Linked DNA regions of Homo sapiens. The protein of the gene in region 3 purifies or fractionates together with the protein of the main gene of each other region. This does not show direct contact. Each region holds a gene or a part of one and is shown on either strand. Other genes may lie near its edges. The genes, in order: PRAM1, CCT2, HDAC3, SKI, SMARCA4, RB1 and STAT3.

Region 1 (3,085 bases), on a different chromosome or scaffold from region 3:
TTGTACCCATGGGCCAGCCTCTCCTCATCCTCCCTTCTGCCTTAGTTTTTCACCCAAATCTCATTACAGTAGAACCCCAGAACCTACCGGGTGCAGTGGCTCAGGCCTGTAATCCCAGCACTTTGGGAGGCTGAGGCAGGGGCATCACCTGAGGTCAGGAGTTAGAGACCAGCCTGGCCAACATGACGAAACCTCATCTGTACTAAAAATACAAAAATCAGCTGGGTGTGGCAGTGGGTGCTTATAATCCCAGCTACTCAGGATGCTGAGGCAGGAGAATCGCTTGAACCCAGGAGGCAGAGGTTGCAGTGAGCTGAGATCATGCCATTGCACTCCAGCCTGGGCAACAAGAATGAAACTCCGTCTCAAAAACAAAAACAAAAACAAAAGAAACAAAAAAAAAAACGGCTAGGCACGGTGGCTCACGCCTATAATCCCAGCACTTTGGGAGGCCGAGGCGGGTGGATCACCTGAGGTCAGGAGTTTGAGACCAGCCTGGCCAACATGGTGAAACCCGTCTCTACTAAAAATAAAAAAAAAAATTAGCCGGGTGTGGTGGCATGTGCCTGTAATCCCACCTACTTGGGAGGTTGAGGGAGGAGAATCGCTTGAACCCAGGAGGTGGAGGTTGCAGTGAGCTGAGATCGCGCCATTGCACACTCTAGCCTGGGCAACAAGAGCAAAACTCCGTCTCAAAAAATAAAAAAGAACCCTAGACCCAACTTGCTCTAGGAGGCAGAAGTGAAATGGCCTCGAAGCCTACAGATAAATCCTGCCTTTACCATTTACCAGCTGGGTGACCTTGGGCAGTTTGCTTGACCTCTCTGAGCCTTTATTTCCTTGTGGACAAGTTGGGCATGACAGTGGCGTCTACTGGCATGAACAAGGTTGCTGAGAGGGCTGCCATGAGGGGCGTGGCCCAGCAGTTCCCACCATGCTGAGCACGTGGCAGGAGTTAAGGGAATGGAAGGCAATCCAGAAGAACCCATGACCCCTGAGAAAGGCTTGCGGAAGAAGGTGGGCAGGGAGAGGTTTGGGAGGGGACCTGGTGGGATTTGGGGAGTCCTCAGAACTGACACAGGGAGGCCTTACTCAAGATCCAGCCACCTGCCAGGCGCAGTGGCTCACGCCTGTAATCCCAGCACTTTAGGAGGCCGAGGCGAGTGGATTGCCTGAGGTCAGGAGTTCAAGACCAGCCTGGCCCACATGGTGAAACCTGTCTGTGTTAAAAATACAAAAATCAGCCAGGTGTGGTGATGGACACCTGTAATCCCAGCTACTCGGGAGCCTGAGGTAGGAGAATCGCTTGAACCCAGGAGGCGAAGGTTGCAGTGAGCCGAGATTGTGCCATTGCACTCCAGCCTGGGTGACAGAGCAAGACTTCGTCTCAAAACAAAAACACAAAAACAAACAAAAAACAGCTACCAGGGTAAAGGCTGAGCCGGCGGGCCCTGCCTTGACTCGGAGTCCTGACTGTCCCCAGATGAAGCGCCCTCAGTTCAGCAAGCCGCCAGGAGGCCACCACAAGACCCAGCGCTCAGGTGCCATGGGCAGAGGGGGTGGGCAGACGGGGGGCGAGCTCCAGGAACCCCCAGAGGAGCACAACTTGCTCACGAGCACACAATTCCTTGGTGGGGGCTATCAGGAAGGAGAAGGATCCCCAGCCACAGCAGTTGCCACCCATGGACCCAAAGTTGCTGAAGCAGCTGAGGAAGGCAGAGAAGGCCGAGAGGGAGTTCCGGAAGAAGTTCAAGGTGAGGCCTCTGAGCTAAGCAGGAGTCCTGGCAGGGCGGAGACCAGGGTCCCACCGATCCCAGGCTCAGAAAGAAGACAGGGGCCCAAGGGCGGCAGCACAAGCAGAGGCCCTAACATCTCGCGCCCCAGTTTGAAGGGGAGATCGTGGTTCACACGAAGATGATGATCGACCCCAACGCTAAGACACGTCGCGGGGGTGGCAAGCACCTCGGGATCCGGCGCGGGGAGATCCTGGAGGTGATCGAGTTCACCAGCAATGAGGAGATGCTGTGCCGGGACCCCAAAGGCAAATGTGAGTGCGCCCGGCCCCGCAGCCCCGGGAGGTCCCCGCCGCCACCCTGGGCCTCAGAACCCACCATGCCCACTCTCTCCACAGATGGCTACGTGCCCAGAACAGCGCTCCTGCCCCTGTGAGTGCCAGCCCTGACCGTGGTGGGGGAGTGCGGGGTGTGTGGTGCAGGGTGGGGGGAATGGGCCACGGTGCCCCTTGCTGACCCAACTGTGCTCTGCCAGGGAGACGGAGGTGTACGATGATGTCGACTTCTGCGGTACGTGGACACTCTGGGAGGGCTGGAGGGACCCTGGCGATTCCCCGGGGGCGCTGCTCACTATTGGGCTTCTGGGGAGAGGGGTCCATGGAAGTCACGCTTCCTCGGCAGATCCCCTGGAAAACCAACCACTCCCCCTGGGACGGTAAGACCGGTAGGCGTGGGGCCAGGACAGCCAGCCAGCCCAGCGCCCGCTCACCCAGGAGCCCTGGATCCCGGCGCGGGAAAGTCACAGAGCTGCCTGGGCTTGTACCTGGCCACATAAAGCCCCAGTTTAAAGCAGTCCCTGCTTCTTGTCTTTTCTTTCCCTCCTGATTGGCACACAGTGGAGCAAAGGCACGGGAACCCCCTGACCAAACACAAAAGGGGGTGTGTCTGGGGTCACCCTGCCATGGTCTCACCCCTCAGGGATAAAAGCCAGTGGGGAGAAAAGGGTGGCAAGAAGCTGGTGAGCAAGGGGGGCTCCGGGTGATCAGAACAGCATGTGCTACCAGGCAGGCAGCCGGGCAGGACGCGCCCCTCCACAGCCAACAGAACAGCAGCAGCCAGGCCTCCTTGCCAGGTATGCACACCTGCTTGGCCTGAGTGGATCCTGAGAGCGCTTCACTGGGGGAAGGGGTGGGGCCTATACCCAATTCTGACAGAGCCCAGGTATCAATCAGATTTGGCCTGAGCCTCTGGCAGGACTGAACACGCATGGAAGGTGGCACACAGTTTGGTCTGTTTCAGCAGGAAAAAAAAAAAGCCAGAGAACAAGCCTGACTCAGGCAGGGCCTGTGCCC
Region 2 (3,500 bases), on a different chromosome or scaffold from region 3:
AGCTATTTAAGTCCAATTTACCAAGCTCTTAGAAGGCATAAAAGCAAGCTTGTCCAACCTGCCTTATTCTGTTGTTGTTTTGCTTTTAGGCTTTTAGCGCCTGAAAGCCATGGATTTTAGTTTCTGTCTCTAGTGATAAGCAGAAAAGAGGGAGGAGGAAGGGGCTTTACCGACCCAACCAGAAACAGAAACTAGGAACCCATGACTGTATTCTCTTCCTTGGACACTTCTGGTATAAAGCATCCCACTAGAAGAGTTATTACAAAATCAATTTAATGGGTTACTTAAAAAATATGAAACAGAAAATATAAGAGCACAGTACAGACAATAAAATTAAACAGTATTTTGAAACTTTTGTTTCAGATATACGCTACACCCACATCTGTATGGGTTGCAATATAAAGACAATAGGTTAAGTCCTATATTTTTATTAGCTTAAAATCACCACCACAAGAGAAAAATTGAAGATTCAGGTATTGAGGCTGGTGGTAAAAATGGAAAAACCATGGACACCGTGGAGTCAGATAAATCTGACCCTGATCATGCCCCTGCTGCTGGCTATATAACCTTCGACAAATTATCCAACCAGAAATGCTAATTTGTAAAACAGGAATGTAACCAGTAGCAGAGGTGCTAGTTACCAGCCTAGTCCTGCTGCTTTGGAACCATCATACAAACCCAGTACCACCTACCTTTCTAGGCCTTTTTTTGGTTACATTAGAAACTTTTCCATTATGAAGCCACCATTATCTTGGGTTTTCTACTCTATTCAAGTGAACCTAATCCTCACTCACCAGGTCATGATGACTAAATGACTAAAGTTCCTATTACAATTCCTAGTACAGAGCAGACATTCAAGAATGGTGCTGCTTGTGCTACTAATATTCTTGTTTTAATGCTCCTTCCCTACCACCAGCCCCTATCAGAAATGCTACGCAGCGGCCAGGCATGGTGGCTCACGCCTGTAATCCCAGTACTTTGGGAGGCTGAGGCAGGTGGATCCCCTTAGGTCAGGAGTTCGAGACCAGCCTGGTCAACATGGCGATACCCCGTCTCTACTAAAAATACAAAAAAGTTAGCCAGGCATGGTGGCACACGCCTGTAATCCCACCTACTCAGGAGGCTGAGGCAGGAGAATCGCCTTAACTCAGGAGGCAGTGGTTGCAGTGAGGCGAGATCATACTGCTGCACTCCAGCCTGGGTGACACAGCCAGACTCCGTCTCAAAAAAAAAAAAAAAGAAATGCTACACAGCTCTTGTATATAAACTTAATCAAGAGTATTTTCAGAATTATGACTCTCTCTTAAAATAAATCAAGACCTATGACACAGAACAAAACCAGGACTCCAAACCACTGGTAAAAACAGAAGTTGTAAAGCACCATCTAATTCTTTTTTTTTCCTTCTCTATATAAGAATGCCTATACTTTTTGACAGGCCATTTTGTGAAGTAAATATAATGTGAAGATGATCTGGAAAACTTCACTCTAAACAAAAATGTACTACTAAGAAAGCAGTACTTATTATGTCTCATTTATCACTCTTTAAGAACTAGATCCTCTTGCCCTATAAACATACATAATTATTTGTTAAAGAAATTTTTTTTAATTCTTTTCTAAAAAAAACTAGTCATCCCCCAGTATACGAAGGGGACTGGTTCCAAGACGCCCACATACACCAAAATCCCCACATACTTAAGTTCCAGGCTGACTGGAACCAGCAGATTTGAAAAGCTGGCCCACTATATACATGGGTTTCAAATCCTGCAAATACTGCATTTTCCATCCACGTTCGGTTGCACATGTGCAAACCACGGACACAAAGGGCTGACTATATTTATTGAAAAAACCTGCATTGTGAACCTACATAATTCAAACCCATGTTGTTCAATGGTCAACTGTACATCCTCAACAACCAGCTAACACAATGATTTGACTGACCCAGACCCTTCCTGGAGAATACATATAATCCTGGTAAAAGTACCATTTGAGAATAGATGATTTCTAGTAAAAGAAAACATTTCCTCTTTATCAGAGACTGCAAATAACTTCATGGTAGTTAAGTAAACTCTAGAGATCATCAACAATGCTGGAATAGCGCGGGAAGAGGAGTACACTGTCAATAAAATGACAAAAATGGTTGCACATATGATATGTCCTTAAATTCAAGTTCACTGGCTTTGTAAAGGGTCACTGGTCTCAAAACAGAATTCACTCAGTATTCAGCCCTCAGCATCTAATCAAAGCTTCTTGTATCTGACATTCATACATACCTTCATCTAAATAGGAATCTGCCAAACTTCCTCCTAGCTTCTTGATAATATGAATTGCCTCCAGGTTGCCAGAGCCTTTCAGTCTGAGAACTGCTTCTACAGCTAACTTTGTAAAGTGGTCTTTGTGATGAGTAAGAAGTTTTGAGGATAATGTTGTGCCCGCAATATTCATTAAATCTTGACGGAATTTAACTTCATCGGAACTAAATAAAACCAACCAAATATACATATTAACCCTACTTTACTTTTCAAAATTTATCTAGATATTCATGTCAATAGATAATTTTACCCTAACTGATCAAGTCTGTAAGCTATATGAAAAGAATTAAACCTCAGCAGTAATCAAGAAACACAAATTAAAGATGTTATTTTCCCCACCAAACTGGCAAAATGCCAAAAAAAAAAGAGGGGTGGGGGCCACACAAGCATGCAAAAGTCTAATGTTGGCAAGAATGTGAGAAATGGCCGGGCACAGTGGCTCACGCCTGTAATCCTAGCACTTTGGGAGACTGAGGAGGATGGATCACTTGAGGTCAGTTCAAGACCAGCCTGAGCAACATGGTGAAACCCCATCTACACTAAAAATACAAAATTAGCTGGCTATGATGGCACATGCCTGTAGTCCCTGCTACTTGGGAGGCTGAGGCAAGAGAATCGCTTGAACCCGGGAGGCAGAGGTTGCAGTCAGCCGAAGTCGTGCCACTGCACTCCATTCTGGGCAACTCTAAGAGCGAGACTCCGTCTCAAAATAAATAAATAAATAAAAGGACGTGAAAAACAAGTATTATTATACAGTTGTGAATGGGCAAATAAATAGAAGTGCCTTAAAACAGTGGTCCCGGACCTTTTTGGCACCAGGGACTGGTTTCATGGGAAGACAATTTTTCCACCTGCTGCTCACCTGCTGTGCAGCCCAGGTTTGGGGGTGCCTTAAAACACACACACTTACCTTTGGACCCAACAATTACACTTCTAGAAACCTTTGGGCTATGTCGCAACGTCACAAAGTTATTTTATAATGCTAAAAATCATCAAATACACAAATCTCCCCCTACAGATAGGTTAATACAGTCATTCTAGCCAAATATTCAAATGTGTAACTCTATTAAAATACTGCACAGAAAATTGACATCCAAAAATGTGCTTAATATTTAACTAGGTTAAAAAGAGGCTAACAAATTCTCTATACAGTATTATACTATTTGCTTTATTTGTATATTTTGATGATA
Region 3 (3,234 bases):
GGCAATGGAGAGAAGTAGATGATCTGAGAGGTGTGTGTGTGTGTGTGTGTATATATATATATATACACACACACACACACATATATATGTTTTTTTTTTTCTTTTTTGAGATGGAGTCTTGCTCTGTCACCCAGGCTGGAGTGCAGTGGCACGATCTTGGCTCAGTGCAAGCTCTGCCTCCTGGGTTCAAGCATTTCTCCTGCCTCAGCCTCCTGAGTAGCTGGGACTACTACAAAGGCGTGAGCACCGCGCCGGGCGTGAGTTATATTTTCAAGGCTAGAATTGACAGAACTTGGGTTGATGAGAATAGTTGATTAGCAGGCAGGGTGCCAGGGAGGGTGTTGAGCAGAACAGAGGGGGGACTGTGCTTTATTTTAAAATTTTTATTGAGACACAGCATATAAAGTATACCCAAATCTTAAGGGTATAACATAATGAATTTCACTATCAAGATAAAGATTTAGAACATTTATAGTTTTCTTGTGCTCCTTTCAGGCAATACCTAAAGGTATTTACCTTGTCTTTTGATAACCTCCTCCACATCTTCCTCTGGTTCCTTTTAACAGGGAATGCGTTGAATATGTCAAGAGCTTCAATATCCCTCTACTCGTGCTGGGTGGTGGTGGTTATACTGTCCGAAATGTTGCCCGCTGCTGGTGAGCACTCTCCTGATTTCCTCCCCTGTTGTCCAGTGTGAGCTAGGGTGTCCCTCAGATATGGCCACATGGGTCCTTCAGCCCACTTGGTCAGCCTGCTCCCCTCTGCTGGTTGGTTTCAGGACATATGAGACATCGCTGCTGGTAGAAGAGGCCATTAGTGAGGAGCTTCCCTATAGTGGTAAGGACCACCCCACAACACCCCCATAACAGGAAGGCCATTCTCACCAGATTCCAGAATGACCTGGTTTGAAGGCACATGGGAAATTTTACACTCTCAGAGCTCTGCAGACTAAACCCCTGGGCTCAGAGCAGGGAAGAGATTGGGCAGCTATTATGTAGGTGCTCTGGATGGGAAGGAAAAAGATTGGGAAGTCTTGTTAGCTGCCTTTCTCAGTCTGAGCCATACTTTCTCCTCTCCTCCCCAAGAATACTTCGAGTACTTTGCCCCAGACTTCACACTTCATCCAGATGTCAGCACCCGCATCGAGAATCAGAACTCACGCCAGGTCAGCAGCTCAGAAAAGCTGAGCACAAACTTCTCCTGAAAGGTGGAGCCCAGGAGAGGTCAAAGATGTGGGAAGTAGGAAAAACCAAAGAGAAGGAAGTTCTAAGCCATCACAGTCACTGTTATTGACTAGGAGGCAGTCCAGTTTAAAGTAGAGGCAGTTGGGGTTGGTGGGGAGGGAGAGCTATCAGTTGGGGGACCTGAACTAGAGGTACCACTGAGATGAAAACCAGTATGGTAGGGGTAAAAGGCAGCTAGGAGATTCCATGTCCTGGGAATCTCTGGAAACTGCTCACTCTGTATTCCTCATTTCCAACCAGTATCTGGACCAGATCCGCCAGACAATCTTTGAAAACCTGAAGATGCTGAACCATGCACCTAGTGTCCAGATTCATGACGTGCCTGCAGACCTCCTGACCTATGACAGGACTGATGAGGCTGATGCAGAGGAGAGGGGTCCTGAGGAGAACTATAGCAGGTCTGGGAGCAGGGACTTCAGCCTACTTTCAATAGGCTTGCTGGGGAGGTTTAAAAGGGAAAAAGTAAATGGGAAGGTATTAGTTTAATTGCCTCTGGCTTACCTCCTTTAGTCTGCTACAATTTCCTCACTCTTTTCTTTGTTATTTTTAATGACAAAAGTAACACGTATTTATTGCAAAATTTTAAAACAGCACCAAAATATGGTGTTGGCGTTCACACAATCCCAGACCTATTCCACAGGAGTAACCACTGTTAATAGTTTTTATTGTTTTGGATAGACCTTTTTCTATAGATTGCAAATATACTATTCTGTATGTACATATAAACAAACACATATACACTCATTTACAGTTTGTGTGGTTTTTGGTTTTTCGTAAATACAAATAGGGTCATTCTACGTATGCTGCTTTACATCATATAGCTGTTTTCAGCTAGCTAATATAGATCTGCTTCAGTATTTTATCAGCTGTATAATAATTTACTATGTGGATAGATTATTTTCCATTTTTTTGGTATTACAATAATAATGTGGCAATGAACCCCCTTACATTATACATCTTTGCATTCTTGTTTGAGTGGGTTAGATAGTAGAATGGTTGCTGCTAGGTCAAAGGCTGTGTGCATTAATTTTTTTTTTTTTTTTTTTTTTGAGACAGGGTCTCATTCTGTCACCCAGGCTGGAGTACAGTGGCATGATTATAGCTCACTGCAATCTTGAACTCCTGGGTTCAAGCGATCCTCCTGCCTCAGCCCCTCGAGTAGCTGGAATCATAGGTGTGCACCACGACACCTGGCTAATTTTTTTTTTTTTTTTTTTTTTTTTTTTTTTTTTTGGTAGAGACGGAGTCTTGCCTTGTTGCCCAGGCTGGTCTCAAACTCCTGGGCTCAAATGTCCTCCTGCCCCAGCCTTCCAAAGTGCTGGGATTATAGGCGTGAGCCACTGAGCCTGGCCTAAAATTTTTTATATTTGCTGCCAAATTGCCGTCCAGAAAGTCTGTAGCACCCTATAGTCTTGCCAGCATTTTTCTCAGTCTTTCCAGGTCTTGAGCTGGACAGGTCACTGCCTGCGTAATACTCTCTAAGGCTCTTTGATTTCTTTGCTCTGTTAATTTTTTCGGGTGGGATAATTGCATTGTGGTTATGTTTTTTTTTTTTTTTTAAAAGTCTTTATCTTTCTGAGATACATACAAAATATTTGTAGATGGAATGAATTAGGGGGGAAAAAGGATAGGATGGAATTTTTTTTTAATCCCAAAACTTTGCTGAAAAATGAAAGGGAAAGACAACAGAACCAAGAAGTGCAGAAACAGATGCACTTAATGGGGAACAGATTTCCTTACATGACTGAGGGATAACCACAGCTGGACACTTGTGGGACACGCTGTCTTGCTCCCACGCAGGGTTAGAGGTTTGAGCCGGCTCTGCTGCAGAGCCTGATGGGCTTCTCAGCCCCTTCTAGAATCTGCTTCTGTCTTAGAATTCAGGCCTCCGAATCTCTCCTCTGGACCTGGGCTTTACTGCTCTGACTCTTGGGGATCTCTGCAACTCTCTTCCTCCAAGGATATCCCCCGATCCCTTCTGAGTGAGGAA
Region 4 (3,500 bases), on a different chromosome or scaffold from region 3:
CTTTTTTCCTGAACAGCTATTTTAGTGTCTCTGAAAAAAACCATCCACAGCCGTGAGCCTTCAGGGGCTGCCTGCCCTGCGTCCCCGGCCCTGTGCGCCCGAGCACTTATCTTTCTCCCTTGGGCCCAGGTCAGAGCCAGGCACCTGCCCCTCCCCTGGCCCCACCCTGCTTGTTCCCTGAGGGCTGCAGGGTGGGTGCACGTGCTGCAGGGGAGGCCACGGGCTTTGGCCAGATCTTCCCCCAGGGCCCTCCATCCCCATAATTGGAGCACCTTGATGGACAGCCTGCCCTGCGCCCCATCTTCCCCCTAGGGAAGCAGGGTCCCTGCTGCCTCCAGGAGGCTGGTTCCTGATGCAGCGTCTTCTCCTAGAGTCCTGGAGGTGGGAAGAGCCCCCGGCCCTGAGTGTGCTCTGTCCACCAAGGCTTCCTGGCTGAGGGCAAGGGCGGAGCCCCCACCGCCCGACTTTGCTGCCTCCTCTTGAGGTTGGCCTCGGCAGAGTGAGTGGGACCTCACCCCTGTGAAGGGCCCCTTGCCCTGTGTGGCCTGTTCTGCATTGGCCTGTGGTGTAGACCTGGTGCCAGCTGCCCTGGAGACTCTGTGCTGTCCTGTGGGGTCTTTGGCAGTAGAGGAATGGCCCATTTTACGGAGACTGCCCTGTGATTTTGCTTGGGAAGAGACCTTGGGTCTCAGTTGTGCCTTGCGGGCAGCACCGTCTCAGGGGTTTCCAGCCGCAGGGCTGTGGGAGTTCACGTTTGCCTGAGGCTGGATGTACCGGCTCAGGCCCCCAGCACACAACCCACATCACTCACTGGCTCTTGGGGGATGTGCCTCAGCACCTGACACACAACACCTGGTTCTGAGTGGGCTGGGTCCAGGCACCTTCGCTAAGCTTCCTCCACCAGCGGGACCTGGTTCTGGGTGGGCTGGGTCTGGGCACCTTCGCTAAGCTTCCTCCAGCACCGGGGCTGGCAAGGAGCGAGGCAAAGGTGTGTGTGGTGCCATCCTGTAGGAGCCAGGCTCCTTGGGGATGGTGTCCTTCATTTTGAAAATGTTTCCTTCCCATGGGGAGGGGGCAGCCAGAATGCCCACTCTTTAATGCACCTGTGCCAGTGGCCCACAGGGACACGGTGTCCCCTCCCCGCGACCACCCCTGTGCCGCAGCTGCCCTTCCCAGACGCATCCGTCGTGAGTGGCTCTCGCCGTGCTGTGGCTGGTTGAGCTGAGTGCCCAGCGCTGGGCACCCTCTGAGGACACACTCGGGTTCTAGGAAAGGGGTTTGGCAGGAGAAGGACGAGGGACTCCTGGCCAGGCTGAGCCGCTGTGGAAGGGGAGAGTGGGTCTTGGTGCTCCATCCCAAACCTGCTGCAGCCGTGGGTGAGGTCACCCGGAATGGCAGGACAAGGTCCACTCTGTTCTCTCGGAGATGACTTGTCCCTCAGCACAGCCTCCACGTGCCTGTTGCGCGTGGCCTAAGGGCCTTTATGCAAAGTGAACTTGGTCTCCTGGGGGGTGCCCTGGAATCTGCCTTCTGCGCCACTCAGGGTCGTTTGTGGCCGGAGTGCATGGGGCTCTGACTGCCATGTGCCAGCCACGGGGCTGGTGGAGGGACCCTGCCCTGGGAACCACAGGTGCCAACAAAACCTTTCATTGATCGCAGGTCTCCTCTGAGCCTCCGGCCTCCATAAGACCCAAAACAGATGACACCTCTTCCCAGTCCCCCGCGCCTTCCGAAAAGGACAAGCCGTCCAGCTGGCTGCGGACCTTGGCCGGCTCTTCCAATAAGGTGCTGTGGGGCCTGTCGGGGTCCTTGGGGTGGTGGGTACTGGGCCCTTCTCCTTGGGCAGACCCAGCGGCTGGCAGCTCCACCTGCCCGCTACTGAGGGCTGGCACCCGGCGCAGCCTCAGGGACATGAAGTGGCTTGTTTTTCTCCTGGTCACTCACACAGACAACTCTTTCTCGACAGAGCCTGGGCTGTGTTCACCCTCGCCAGCGCCTCTCTGCTTTCCGACCCTGGTCCCCCGCAGTGTCAGCGAGTGAGAAAGAGCTCTCCCCACACCTCCCGGCCCTCATCCGAGACAGGTGAGTGGGCGCCATTCACAGGTGTTTCTGATCACGGGGGAGGCTCCACGAGGGCTGTGCATGCGGACGCGCCCATGTTTCTGCAGGCTGGGTGCCCAGACCTGCCGCCTTTTGGTCAGGGCAGTCTCGGTGTTGGTTCCTTTGGCTGGCATCAGGGAGAGCACACCTAGAGCGTTCCCTGTGTTCTGGGTGGAGTCGTGGGTGGAGCCCTGTCTGCTGGGCGCAGCTTCTTGATGTGTTGGCCTGTGTCTGGCCTTCGCAAGAGACCCAGCAAGCAGAAAACGCTTACGGGTTCTTAGGGAACTGTAAGCTTGACTTGAAGATTCGGAGCTGGGAAAGTCTTTCCTGTTTAACACCTTCAGAGGGGGTGTGCGCCAGGATGTGTCTGGGTGGTGCTTGGGGACAGAGGCACCTTCCCGACACCCGCCTGCCCCTCCAGCTTCTACTCCTACAAGAGCTTTGAGACAGCCGTGGCGCCCAACGTGGCCCTCGCACCGCCGGCCCAGCAGAAGGTTGTGAGCAGCCCTCCGTGTGCCGCCGCCGTCTCCCGGGCCCCCGAGCCTCTCGCCACTTGCACCCAGCCTCGGAAGCGGAAGCTGACTGTGGACACCCCAGGAGCCCCAGAGACGCTGGCGCCCGTGGCTGCCCCAGAGGAGGACAAGGACTCGGAGGCGGAGGTGGAAGTTGAAAGCAGGGAGGAATGTACGTGTGAGTCGCTTTCTGTGCCTCCTCCCTGTGGGCTGTGGGGGTGGCACTGGCTGAGGGGGGCTGGTCGCCGGGGGTGCGTTGGTGGCCCCATGTTTCGCAGGTTCCTCCGGGAGCGGCGCGTCTCCCTGGTGTGGAGCTGCCGGGCACTTCCATGACTTTGTTTCTGTCTCTGCTTCCTCCTCAGTCACCTCCTCCTTGTCCTCGCTCTCTTCCCCGTCCTTTACCTCATCCAGCTCCGCCAAGGACCTGGGCTCCCCGGGTGCGCGTGCCCTGCCCTCGGCCGTCCCTGATGCTGCGGCCCCTGCCGACGCCCCCAGTGGGCTGGAGGCGGAGCTGGAGCACCTGCGGCAGGCACTGGAGGGCGGCCTGGACACCAAGGAAGCCAAAGAGAAGTTCCTGCATGAGGTGGTCAAGATGCGCGTGAAGCAGGAGGAGAAGCTCAGCGCAGCCCTGCAGGCCAAGCGCAGCCTCCACCAGGTGAGCGGGGCGAGTGGTGCTGGGAGGTCCAGGGCACGGGCAGTGAGCACAGCCTGCACCAGGTGAACGGGCACAGGTGGTGCCTCCTCCCTTCCTGGCTGCCCCATGCGCTCCTCTCTGCCTCCACCTCAGTGGGCCTGCCTGGGACCTTGGGGGTCCGTCTCCCAAAAGCTGCAGCCCTGGGTATGGTGAGCCCCTCAGTGTCCCCAGGCTGATGGACATCCCAGGAGGCC
Region 5 (3,500 bases), on a different chromosome or scaffold from region 3:
TTGCTTGACCACAGTCTCCCATATGCTCGTGCTCCACTGGGCGACATTTATTTTGTGTACCTGTCTCGAGGCCTAAGTAGGTGTCAGAACCTTGCCTTGGAGTCATGCTGGGGACTGGGGAGATGCGCGTCATCTTCGGGTGGCTGTTCTCGGTGCCCTCGAGCTTCTCTCGGGCAGCGCATAGCTGCGCTGCCACCTCACGTTCCACATGCTGACCCTGCCTTGCCATGGTCCCTCTCGCAGCCCATGGAGTCCATGCATGAGAAGGGCATGTCGGACGACCCGCGCTACAACCAGATGAAAGGAATGGGGATGCGGTCAGGGGGCCATGCTGGGATGGGGCCCCCGCCCAGCCCCATGGACCAGCACTCCCAAGGTACAGAACTGCGTTCCTTCCTGCCTTGTGTTTGTCATACTCCAGAGTCCTCAGATCATTTTCCTCCCCTGGGTTCCCACAGGATGGATTCAGGGAGTACCTAGGATGATGTAGCCGGGTGGGTGGCCCGCCACAGAGAGCTGTCTGGCATGGCGTGGCTGGTGCTCTGTTCTGGCCACCTCGTCTCGGAGCAGCCCTGGAAGGGGAAATGCTGGTTGGGGGGCAGACCATGTTCAGCATGGGTGATAGAGGAGGGCTGTGCAGGGCAGCAGCCCCGTGCCACCCAGGAACTTACTGGAAATACAGATTCCTGGGGCCTGGGACTCTGCTTTAATGAGCCCAGCAGGTGCCTTTTCTGTACGAGGACAATTGAGAAGTGATATGGTGGGTGACTTTCCAAGGCCTTGCTGTCATCAGGGGTGGGAAGCTCAGGGGCTGCACTGGGAATGGAAGTGTTGGGGGTGGGCCTGGCGAGCCCGAGGATGTGGACCCCGCCTGTGGACAGGCAGGCGGAAGCCGGGAGAGAGCCGTGATTTCATGCACAGGTTCTCAGCATTAACCAGAAGCACCTTACTGAGACGTGGGCCAAACCAAATCCACCAGGTCGGCTGCTGGGCTGAGGTGCCTTCAGCATGTGCCCTCCAGGTGCCCCTGGTTGACTCAAGAGAAGGATGCCATTTGGCTGTGCCCTGTCTCAGAGTAGGAGCTGGTGTAGGGGGAAGAGGCTGTAAAAATCACAGACATATGCTGCCGAGTGACCAGTGGGCTGACCTTTCTCTGCAGGTTACCCCTCGCCCCTGGGTGGCTCTGAGCATGCCTCTAGTCCAGTTCCAGCCAGTGGCCCGTCTTCGGGGCCCCAGATGTCTTCCGGGCCAGGAGGTGCCCCGCTGGATGGTGCTGACCCCCAGGCCTTGGGGCAGCAGAACCGGGGCCCAACCCCATTTAACCAGAACCAGCTGCACCAGCTCAGAGCTCAGATCATGGCCTACAAGATGCTGGCCAGGGGGCAGCCCCTCCCCGACCACCTGCAGATGGCGGTGCAGGGCAAGCGGCCGATGCCCGGGATGCAGCAGCAGATGCCAACGCTACCTCCACCCTCGGTGTCCGCAACAGGACCCGGCCCTGGCCCTGGCCCTGGCCCCGGCCCGGGTCCCGGCCCGGCACCTCCAAATTACAGCAGGCCTCATGGTAAGACTGGCTGCCCTGGCCCTCAGGTGTCTCAGAGCGAATGGCTGGGGCGTGGGTGGCGGGGTGGACAGACCGTGCTCTGTTGCCGACTGGGTTCCCCGGTTTGGGATTGCACGGGCCCATACTGCACTTCTGGGTGCTCGGGTGGTGGGGGCAGCTAAATGCTGCTTCCCCAGCTCCCCGCTTCCCCTGGGGCCGCTGGTTAATAGGTGTATCTGCTGTGTCCCCTGGAGCCAGGGCTGCCCACGGGGCTGGGCGCAGGCATAAACCTGGGACGCACTGTTTTCTCTTTTGTTTCTCCCTACATGTAGGTATGGGAGGGCCCAACATGCCTCCCCCAGGACCCTCGGGCGTGCCCCCCGGGATGCCAGGCCAGCCTCCTGGAGGGCCTCCCAAGCCCTGGCCTGAAGGTGAGCTCCCTCTTCTATGGTGGTGCACCCGTGCCCTTACTCCCCATCTCAAGCTTGGGTCCTTGAGATGAGCTTTGTCAGGGAGAAAGGGCCGAGGGTGGTCAGGCTGAACTGCAGCCTGTACTTTTCTTGTGGTGGTCCCCGGGTCTCCCCTGTAGCCAGTCAGTTCCCAAAGGCTGTCGTTCATCCCTCCTCTGACAGCTTGTGGCCTTCACCCAGTCCCTGAGCCCTGTATATGTAATTGCTCAGTAAGTGCTGCAGGCTCCCATCTGTTGGGCTCAAAGAGGCAGTGGGACTCATTACCCATCCTCTTGGAGCCTGAGGTTTAGCGATGGGCATTGAGGGGCAAATTGCTTCCACTGGATTTAGTTGGCACTAGGAGGAGATGACAGGAAATGCTGCCATAGAGCCACAGACAGAACAAAAAGGCCTTGGGAGCCTGGGGCTGGCCCCAGTGGAGGGTGTGAAGGACGAGGGTGAGGCTGAGATCTGGAGGAGGTTGGAGCCCAAGGCAGGTGTGAAGGACACCCCTGGGTGAAAGGTGGGAGATGGGCGGGGTCTGCCTGTCCCCAGTGCCTCAAGCAGCTCAGCAGCTTTCCATTTCCAGCCCGGGATGGGCCCCAGAGCTCAACATGACGCCCTGGCCCCTTGCCTTCTCCCAGGACCCATGGCGAATGCTGCTGCCCCCACGAGCACCCCTCAGAAGCTGATTCCCCCGCAGCCAACGGGCCGCCCTTCCCCCGCGCCCCCTGCCGTCCCACCCGCCGCCTCGCCCGTGATGCCACCGCAGACCCAGTCCCCCGGGCAGCCGGCCCAGCCCGCGCCCATGGTGCCACTGCACCAGAAGCAGAGCCGCATCACCCCCATCCAGAAGCCGCGGGGCCTCGACCCTGTGGAGATCCTGCAGGAGCGCGAGTACAGGTGAGGGCGGGGCCCAGTTGCCAAGGTCACTGCCCTGTGTCCCCCATGTCCCCCTGGGGAAGCCACTCAACTTTCTCCCCCACTCTAGCAAACAGTGCCCTGTGCCCACCACTGCCACTTGGCCTACACCTCCTTCCTCACCTCCCTGCTCCCACCCTGGCTGCGGTCTGTTTCCCACACAGCAGTTTGAGTTCTCTCTCTTTTTTTTTTTTTGAGACGGAGTTTCACTCTTGTTGCCCACGCTGGAGTGCAATGGCACAATCTCGGTTCACTGCAACCTGCATCTCCTGGCTTCAAGCGATTCTTCTGCCTCAGCCTCCTGAGTAGCTGGGATTATAGGCATGCGCCACCACACCTGGCTAATTTTGTATTTATTTTAGTAGAGGCAGGGTTTCTCCATGTTGGTCAGGCTGGTCTCGAGCTCCTGACCTCAGATGCTCCCAAAGTGCTGGGATTACAGGCATGAGCCACCGCACCTGGCATGAATTCTCTTTTTATGATTGATATCAGATCTACTCCGTGGATTAAAACCTGCCTGTAGCTTCAATTATCTGCCCAATAAGCTTTGCCTTATGTCCACTCCTGCCCAGCATCCTTCCTCACCC
Region 6 (3,500 bases), on a different chromosome or scaffold from region 3:
AAGGATTATAGTTTTAATATAAATCTTAAGAGTAATTTTACTTTTTCTCCAATATTTCACATAATATAGCCAATCAATAGATGACTGGTAATTAGTGCCTCAACTAAGGTAGGACAGGAACAATGATTAAACATAAGCATGGATTACTGTTCTATCTAATACATTTATGAAGATTAATGAAAAGTTTGCATTTAATTGGATTTCTTCCTATCACTCCTTTTAAAATGCAATTTTACTTCTCTGAGGTTGGAATCACTTTGGCGTTAAAAGTCACAGTAGAAGGCATGCCAATAGTTTTCTCTTGGGCATTGGTTTTTAAAGTATAATTAAAAAATTATGGATCAGAACTGATGAAAGATTTACAAATTCTAGCAATTGAAAAAGTATCTAAGATTGGGAATAAATTGTGCAAGTGTGTTAATTGAACTGATAAATTGAGCTAATTGTCTTGCCCAAGATACTTAACTGAAGGGTACTGGAGTGAACCAAAGGGTTTAGAAAACATTGGTAGAATATGTAATCAAGAGGATTTGCAACAATGTTTGAAAAAATATTTTATATTGATAAGCATAAAAGATTAAAAGCAGGCTGGGCGCGGTGGCTCACGCCTGTAATTCTAGTACTTTGGGAGGCCGAGGCAGGTGGATCACCTGAGGTCAGGAGTTCAAGACCAGCTTGGCCAACATGGCGAAACCCCGTCTCTACTAAAAATACAAAAATTAGCCGGGCATGGTAGCAGGTACCTATAATCCCAGCTACTCGGGAGGCTGAGGCAGGAAAGTTGCTTGAACCCCGGGGGCAGAGGTGGCAGTGAGCCGAGATTGTGCCACTGCACTCCAGCCTGGGCGAAAGAGCGAAACTCCATCTCAAAAAAAAAAAAAAAAAAAAGATTAAAAGTAAAGCATATATGGGATGTTTGGAAAATCTTGGCAGTTAAACAGTTATTATAATACCTATTTTTATCTTAGGTACTGTTTTGTAGCATTGGCTATCTTTGTCTACATAAAATTCTAATAAATATTTTCTATGCACGAAATAGACCTAAAATCAAAGTTGAACAAATGTTGCAATTTTCTGTACCTCACTTTTAGATAGACCTTATTTATATTGCATGCGAACTCAGTGTATATTACAAAATTAAATGTATATTATACAAAAATTCTTTAATGAAATCTGTGCCTCTGTGTGCTGAGAGATGTAATGACATGTAAAGGATAATTGTCAGTGACTTTTTTCTTTCAAGGTTGAAAATCTTTCTAAACGATACGAAGAAATTTATCTTAAAAATAAAGATCTAGATGCAAGATTATTTTTGGATCATGATAAAACTCTTCAGACTGATTCTATAGACAGGTATTGCACATGGTATATTTGATTGATTTGCTTTAGATATAGGTTGATACTGATATAGGTAGATTATATAGTCTTTAGCTTAGTGACCTTTAGATATCATTTATAACAAATTACTTTCAAATGTCTTTATACAAAGAAAAGTTTAACAGTATTTTAAGCATATAACTTATCTACAAATATAGATTTAATGTGAATTGTGTGTCCTATAACAGTTACCTTTTTGCAGTTAACTGAATATAATTTTTTAAAATGTGCACCAAAAGATAATGGCTAAAGTAATTAGTTTCTTCAAATAGTGGTCTCTACCTTATTTCTATCCTTTCATATACTATTGCCTGCCTGGTTTATTTAAAAAAGTTTATACAAAAGTGTAGTCTCTGTTATTATCATGTAGAAACCTAAAATTGGAATGGTTGAGAGTGATTGTTAAAATTTTTGACTGATCATAAGTAAAGTTAATTTTGTGTCTTTAGCATGAACTCTTTTAATATGAAACTGAAAATATGCGTAATTTAGAAGTTAAACACAGTAAAATGTTTTAAATTTTATTTAAGTGGAAATAAAGTTTTTAGAAGGAATAATGCATTGAAAAACTTGAGTTTTAATGCTTTTTAATACTGAACAACTTGGTTATCAATACCACCAGGGAGAAAGCATCTGACTTTCACTTTTAAAAAAAGACTTAATGATTGGTATACCTCTTTGTCATAAACATAATGGAAAGAGACCCACAATTAAAAAGAGTAGTGAAAAATATTTTATTTAAGCAGCAGCTGGGTCATCTATTTTCTATCCTATCTATTATTGAGTTATCATTTTATATGATTTTATGAGACAACAGAAGCATTATACTGCTTTTTTGATGCATAAAGCACAAATTGTAAATTTTCAGTATGTGAATGACTTCACTTATTGTTATTTAGTTTTGAAACACAGAGAACACCACGAAAAAGTAACCTTGATGAAGAGGTGAATGTAATTCCTCCACACACTCCAGTTAGGTATGAATTTTCCTACTTTTAATTATATTATAATTTTGTTATTCATGGCTTTATAGTGTTTCAGATTTGTTCACGTTTCTTTATGTATTCATACATACATGTAAGAAATATATATTGAAGGCCAGGTGTGGTGGATCACACCTGTAATCCCAGCACTTTGGGAGGCCAAGGCGGGCAGATCACCTGAGGTTAGGAGTTTGAGACCGGCCTGGCCAACATGGTGAAACCCCGTCTCTACTAGAAATACAAAAATTAGCTGGGGGTGGTGGTGTGTGCCTGTAATCCCAGCTGCTCGGGAGGCTGAGGCAGGAGAATTGCTTGAACCCGGGAGGCGGAGGTTGCAGAGAGCTGAGATCGTGCCATTGCACTTCAGCCTGGGTGACAAGAGCGAAACTCCGTCTCAAAAAAAAAATGTGTATATATAATCTTTGTGTGCTGGGCATTTTACTGGTTGCTGAAGATATGGTTATTGGACCTAGTTTTGTCTGTTCTTAAAGAACATAACCTAAAATAGGAATGTGTTCCATTTCAGTAAATAAAAAAGAAAAAATTAAAGTATCACTATTTGATCTGCATGCAACCTTAAAGGATTAGAACTATTTTTTATGTCTTTTTCCTCACTCATTTCCCACATCAAAATCTGTTATCAAGGCTTGTTGAATAATCTACCTCCAAAATATTTCCTGAGTGCATCTACTTTTCTCCATTTCTGCTCTCACAACTCTTGTCCAAGACATTGTTCTCTTTCTCTTGGATTTTTTGCAGTAGCCTACTACCTGATCTTGCTCCTTCTGGTCTCATCATTGTTCCTGTCTCCTCACCATCAAAGATATTCTCCATAGAGCCCCCAGAATTTCTCCTAGAAATGTAAATCAGTTACATTCACCTTGCTGTTAAACCCACTGACTGCTTCCCATTGCAATTGGTATACAGTGCAAATTCCTTAACAATGCCTAAAAGATCTTATATGGTCTGGTTTCTGTTGCCTCTCCAACCTCATCTTGTTTTCTTTCTCACTCTGTGTTAGCCACACTTTGGCCTTCTCTGTTTCTTGGGCTTTCCAAGTTTTTTGAAAACCCTCGTACTTGATATTCCCTCTTCTTGAAATTTCCTCCTTTTCTTTCCATGGATTACCAACTGCTACTC
Region 7 (3,500 bases), on a different chromosome or scaffold from region 3:
CCTCCTCCCGGGTTCAAGTGATTCTCGCACCTCAGCCTCCTGAGTAGCTGGGATTACAGGTGCCCGCCACTACGCCCGGCTAATTTTTGTATTTTTAGTAGAGATAAGGTTTCACTATATTGACCAGGCTGGTCTCAAACTCCTGACCTCAAGAGATCTGCCCACCTCAGCCTCCCAAAGTGCTGGGATTACAGGCGTGAACCACCTTGCCTGGCCAACATATATATACCTTTTGCAACTTTGTCAGAGTTGCTATGAAGAATAAGTTGTATCTTGTTCACAGAAATTGCAGTCTACTGGGGGAGCTGATAAATGTTTTAACCATCCAATGTAACATGTTGTCATCAAAGAGATGGTGAGACTTTACACTTGTGCTAACAAGGTAGCTGTTCTACATAAAAGAACATACAGTACAGATGTAGAACTTTTCTGTTATCATAGAACGTTCTATTGGACAGTGCTAGGCTGAATGCTACAGATCTTCAGAGAAAGGAGAGGTTATGAGGCCTGGAGTTGTCTAGAAAGTCTTTTTGCCAAAGAGGGATTTCAACTGGGTCCCAAATAATGGGTGGAATTTGATAGGTGTAAAGAATTTGCGGTGGTTTATGCCTGTAATCCCAGCACTTTGGGAGGCTGAGGCAGGAGGATTGCTTGAGCCCAGGAGTTTGAGACCAGCTTGGGCAACGTGGTAAAACTCCCTCTCCCCTAAAAATAAAAAAAATTAGCCAGGCCTGGTGGCGTGGACCTGTAGTCCCAGCTACTGGTGAGACTAAGGTGGGAGGATCACCCAAGCCCCGGGGGTTAAGGCTGCAGTGAGCCGTGATCCCGCCACCGCACTCCAGCCTGGGTGACAGAGTGAGACCCTGTCTCCAAAAAAAAAAAAAATTCCTGGTAGCCCGGTAGACTAGGAGGGTAAGTAGGGGAGAAGTGATTACTTACAAAAGACATTGAATACAGGACCAAGGAATTTCAGTTCTGTTCTTTTGTAGGGGAAGCTTTTAAAACTTTCGGGGCGCCGGGCGCGGTGGCTCACGCCTGTAATCCCAGCACTTTGGGAGGCCCAGACGCGCGGATCACGAGGCCAGGAGATCGAGACCATCCTGGCTAACACGGTGAAACCCCATCTCTACTAAAAATACAAAAAAAAGTAGCCGGGCGTTGTGGCGGGCGTCTGTAGTCCCAGCTACTCGGGAGGCTGAGGCAGGAGAAGAGCGTGAACTCGGGAGGCGGAGCTTGCAGTGAGCCGATATCGCACCACTGCACTCCAGCCTGGGCGACAGAGCGAGACTCCGTCTCAAAAAAAAAAAAAATAAATAAATAAATAAATAAATAAAACTTTGGAGCCGAAGCACTGATGTTTAATCATAGAGTGCTTACTATGTGTTAGGCACAGGCCTGATTGCCTGATGCTGGTTAATTTGTACAAAGTAAATCAGTGCATATGCCCTCTGCCCTAGGGGAGTTATTAACTGGAGTCTGACATTGTACAAAGGTAGGTATCCTGACTAGTTTGATTTGGTACTTTGGGTGAAAAAAGTATAGTGTGCTTAAGTGCAGAAGTGTTTTTTGAGGATTTTTGATTGGATACAAACCACCACTCATATTTTATGTCTTTGGCACTTAAAAATTTCACCATAACTTTTGAGTCATTTATAAAAACCACTGAAAGAGTACTTGAGGGACATCCCCGAATCCTGAAGAACTTCTGGTGTTCTGGAGCAGCCTCAGTGAGATCCAGGAGGATGGCATTGCTGGGCTGGCCCAGCCCTTATTGATTATGGTGTAAAGAATTAATATGGTGGTTATATACTCTTTGTTAGACACCTTGGCTTACAAGACGTAAGCGTAAAGTGTAGTGCGCTTTAGTCAGTATGGCCACATGGTCCTTTGGTGGTAAATTGTTTGAGATGCCTCCAGTTTTTAAAAGGAGTAGCATATCGGGCCAGGAGCAGTGGCTCATGCCTATAATCCCAGCACTTTGGAAGGCCGAGGCAAGAGGATTGCTTGAGCCCAGGAGTTCAAGACCAGCCTGGGCAACATAGTGAGACCACTTTGTTTCTTTAAAAAAAAAAAAAAGGCAAAAACAGGCTGGGCATGGTGGCTGATGCCTGTAATCCCAGCGCTTTGTGAGGCAGAGGTGAGCGGATCACTTGAGGTCAGGAGTTTGAGACCAGCCTGGCCAACATGGTAAAACCCCGTCTCTACTAAAAATACAAAAATTAGCCAGGTGTGGTGGCACACGCCTGTAGTTCCAGCTACTCTGGAGGCTGAGCCAGGAGAATTGCTTGAACCTGGGAGGTGGAGGCTGCAGTGAGCCAAGATCCTGCCACTGCACTCCAGACTGGGGGACAGAGTGAGACATTCTGACAGTGCTACACTGAATGCTACATGTCTTCAGAGGAAGGAGAGGTTATGAGGCCTGGGAATAACATATGGAAGAATGAATTTCTGTTATGGTCAGTTCTCATTTGTCATGTTAGGATTACTGCAACTCTTACCCAGCCGGGTGTGGTGGCTCATGCCTGTAATTCCAGCACTTTGGGAGGCTGTGGGCGGATCACGAGGTCAGGAGATCGAGACCATCCTGGCTAACACGGTGAAACTCCGCCTCTACTAAAAATACAAAAAATTAGCCCAGCGTGGTGGCAGACGCCTGTAGTCCCAGCTACTCAGGAGGCTGAGGCAGGAGAATGGCATGAGTCCTGGAGGCGGAGCTTGCAGTGAGCTGAGATCGTGCCACTGCACTCCAGCCTGGGCAACAGAGTGGGACTCCATCTCAAAAAAAAAAGAAAAAAAAAAGGATTACCGCAACTCTTTAATTCAGATCAGCAAACATGTTGAGAGCCAGGTATTGCGTCAGGCAGGATCCAAGGATAATGAAATATTGTCCGTTTTCATGAAACTGGAGATGTTGCAGGGACCGAGGTGTGTGCTATGCCAGTATGGAAGTAGGACAGGGGAGACGACAGGGCAGTGAGTGGTTCAAGACTCTGGCTCTGAAGTCAAACAGATCTGGGACTGAATCCTGGATCTGCCACTTCCTAGTCAGAATCTGAGCCTCTATTTTCTTATCTGTAAAAGAAGATTATAACAGTGCTTATCTTGTAGGTACTGTTGACGATTCAATAAGATAATGTGGATAAAATGCTTAGCATAGTGCCTGGCACATAGTAAGAGCTCGGTAAATCTAAGTTCTTACTAAATATCCAAGAAAAGAGATTAATTCTTTTCAGGAGTGAGAGAAAGTCATCATTATTGAGGGGCTTTATCAGATGGGAACACCTGAATAGGGTTTTATAGGATGAATAGGAATTCTTTCCACGAAGTTGCGTTACAAAAAGTTGCATTCAAGGCTGAAGGAACATGAGGGTGCAGAGGCTTAAAACAGCCTTGTGTGTTCAGGGAGCTATAAGTAGAAGTTCTTAATTTAGGAGAACTAAACCAAGGGGAAAGGAGGCCAAGGAACCACAGTTCTTATCCCTTTTCTGTTAATAATTGGG

Evidence for each region.
Region 1: the proteins of HDAC3 (region 3) and PRAM1 purify together in Homo sapiens (affinity purification with western blotting; 2 studies listed by BioGRID). This does not show direct contact.
Region 2: the proteins of HDAC3 (region 3) and CCT2 purify together in Homo sapiens (affinity purification with mass spectrometry; 2 studies listed by BioGRID and IntAct, with this or other methods). This does not show direct contact.
Region 4: the proteins of HDAC3 (region 3) and SKI purify together in Homo sapiens (affinity purification with western blotting; 4 studies listed by BioGRID and IntAct, with this or other methods). This does not show direct contact.
Region 5: the proteins of HDAC3 (region 3) and SMARCA4 purify together in Homo sapiens (affinity purification with western blotting, with the first as the bait; 2 studies listed by BioGRID). This does not show direct contact.
Region 6: the proteins of HDAC3 (region 3) and RB1 purify together in Homo sapiens (affinity purification with western blotting; 3 studies listed by BioGRID). This does not show direct contact.
Region 7: the proteins of HDAC3 (region 3) and STAT3 purify together in Homo sapiens (affinity purification with western blotting; 4 studies listed by BioGRID). This does not show direct contact.

Annotation. Positions count from the first base shown.
Region 1 is NC_000019.10:8,489,556-8,492,640, reverse strand, and holds the end of PRAM1 (PML-RARA-regulated adapter molecule 1), read left to right. Parts: intron 1-1,483; coding exon 1,484-1,541; intron 1,542-1,645; coding exon 1,646-1,754; intron 1,755-1,884; coding exon 1,885-2,047; intron 2,048-2,131; coding exon 2,132-2,165; intron 2,166-2,268; coding exon 2,269-2,303; coding exon of another isoform or gene 2,304-2,414; coding exon 2,415-2,452; 3' UTR 2,453-2,585; downstream 2,586-3,085. UniProt on the Homo sapiens protein: May be involved in myeloid differentiation. May be involved in integrin signaling in neutrophils. Binds to PtdIns(4)P.
Region 2 is NC_000012.12:69,588,459-69,591,958, reverse strand, and holds part of CCT2 (T-complex protein 1 subunit beta), read right to left. Parts: intron 2,475-3,500; coding exon 2,272-2,474; intron 1-2,271. UniProt on the Homo sapiens protein: Component of the chaperonin-containing T-complex (TRiC), a molecular chaperone complex that assists the folding of actin, tubulin and other proteins upon ATP hydrolysis.
Region 3 is NC_000005.10:141,623,616-141,626,849, reverse strand, and holds part of HDAC3 (histone deacetylase 3), read left to right. Parts: intron 1-566; coding exon 567-656; intron 657-778; coding exon 779-837; intron 838-1,085; coding exon 1,086-1,165; intron 1,166-1,484; coding exon 1,485-1,642; coding exon of another isoform or gene 1,643-1,730; exon of another isoform or gene 1,731-1,988; intron 1,989-3,234. UniProt on the Homo sapiens protein: Histone deacetylase that catalyzes the deacetylation of lysine residues on the N-terminal part of the core histones (H2A, H2B, H3 and H4), and some other non-histone substrates.
Region 4 is NC_000001.11:2,301,319-2,304,818, forward strand, and holds part of SKI (ski oncogene), read left to right. Parts: intron 1-1,659; coding exon 1,660-1,785; intron 1,786-1,966; coding exon 1,967-2,082; intron 2,083-2,521; coding exon 2,522-2,784; coding exon of another isoform or gene 2,785-2,790; intron 2,791-2,974; coding exon 2,975-3,267; intron 3,268-3,500. UniProt on the Homo sapiens protein: May play a role in terminal differentiation of skeletal muscle cells but not in the determination of cells to the myogenic lineage. Functions as a repressor of TGF-beta signaling.
Region 5 is NC_000019.10:10,985,030-10,988,529, forward strand, and holds part of SMARCA4 (SWI/SNF-related matrix-associated actin-dependent regulator of chromatin subfamily A member 4), read left to right. Parts: intron 1-243; coding exon 244-376; intron 377-1,159; coding exon 1,160-1,564; intron 1,565-1,875; coding exon 1,876-1,974; intron 1,975-2,636; coding exon 2,637-2,895; intron 2,896-3,500. UniProt on the Homo sapiens protein: ATPase involved in transcriptional activation and repression of select genes by chromatin remodeling (alteration of DNA-nucleosome topology).
Region 6 is NC_000013.11:48,366,251-48,369,750, forward strand, and holds part of RB1 (retinoblastoma-associated protein), read left to right. Parts: intron 1-1,243; coding exon 1,244-1,353; intron 1,354-2,276; coding exon 2,277-2,354; intron 2,355-3,500. UniProt on the Homo sapiens protein: Tumor suppressor that is a key regulator of the G1/S transition of the cell cycle. The hypophosphorylated form binds transcription regulators of the E2F family, preventing transcription of E2F-responsive genes.
Region 7 is NC_000017.11:42,381,943-42,385,442, reverse strand, and holds part of STAT3 (signal transducer and activator of transcription 3), read left to right. Parts: intron 1-3,500. UniProt on the Homo sapiens protein: Signal transducer and transcription activator that mediates cellular responses to interleukins, KITLG/SCF, LEP and other growth factors. Once activated, recruits coactivators, such as NCOA1 or MED1, to the promoter region of the target gene.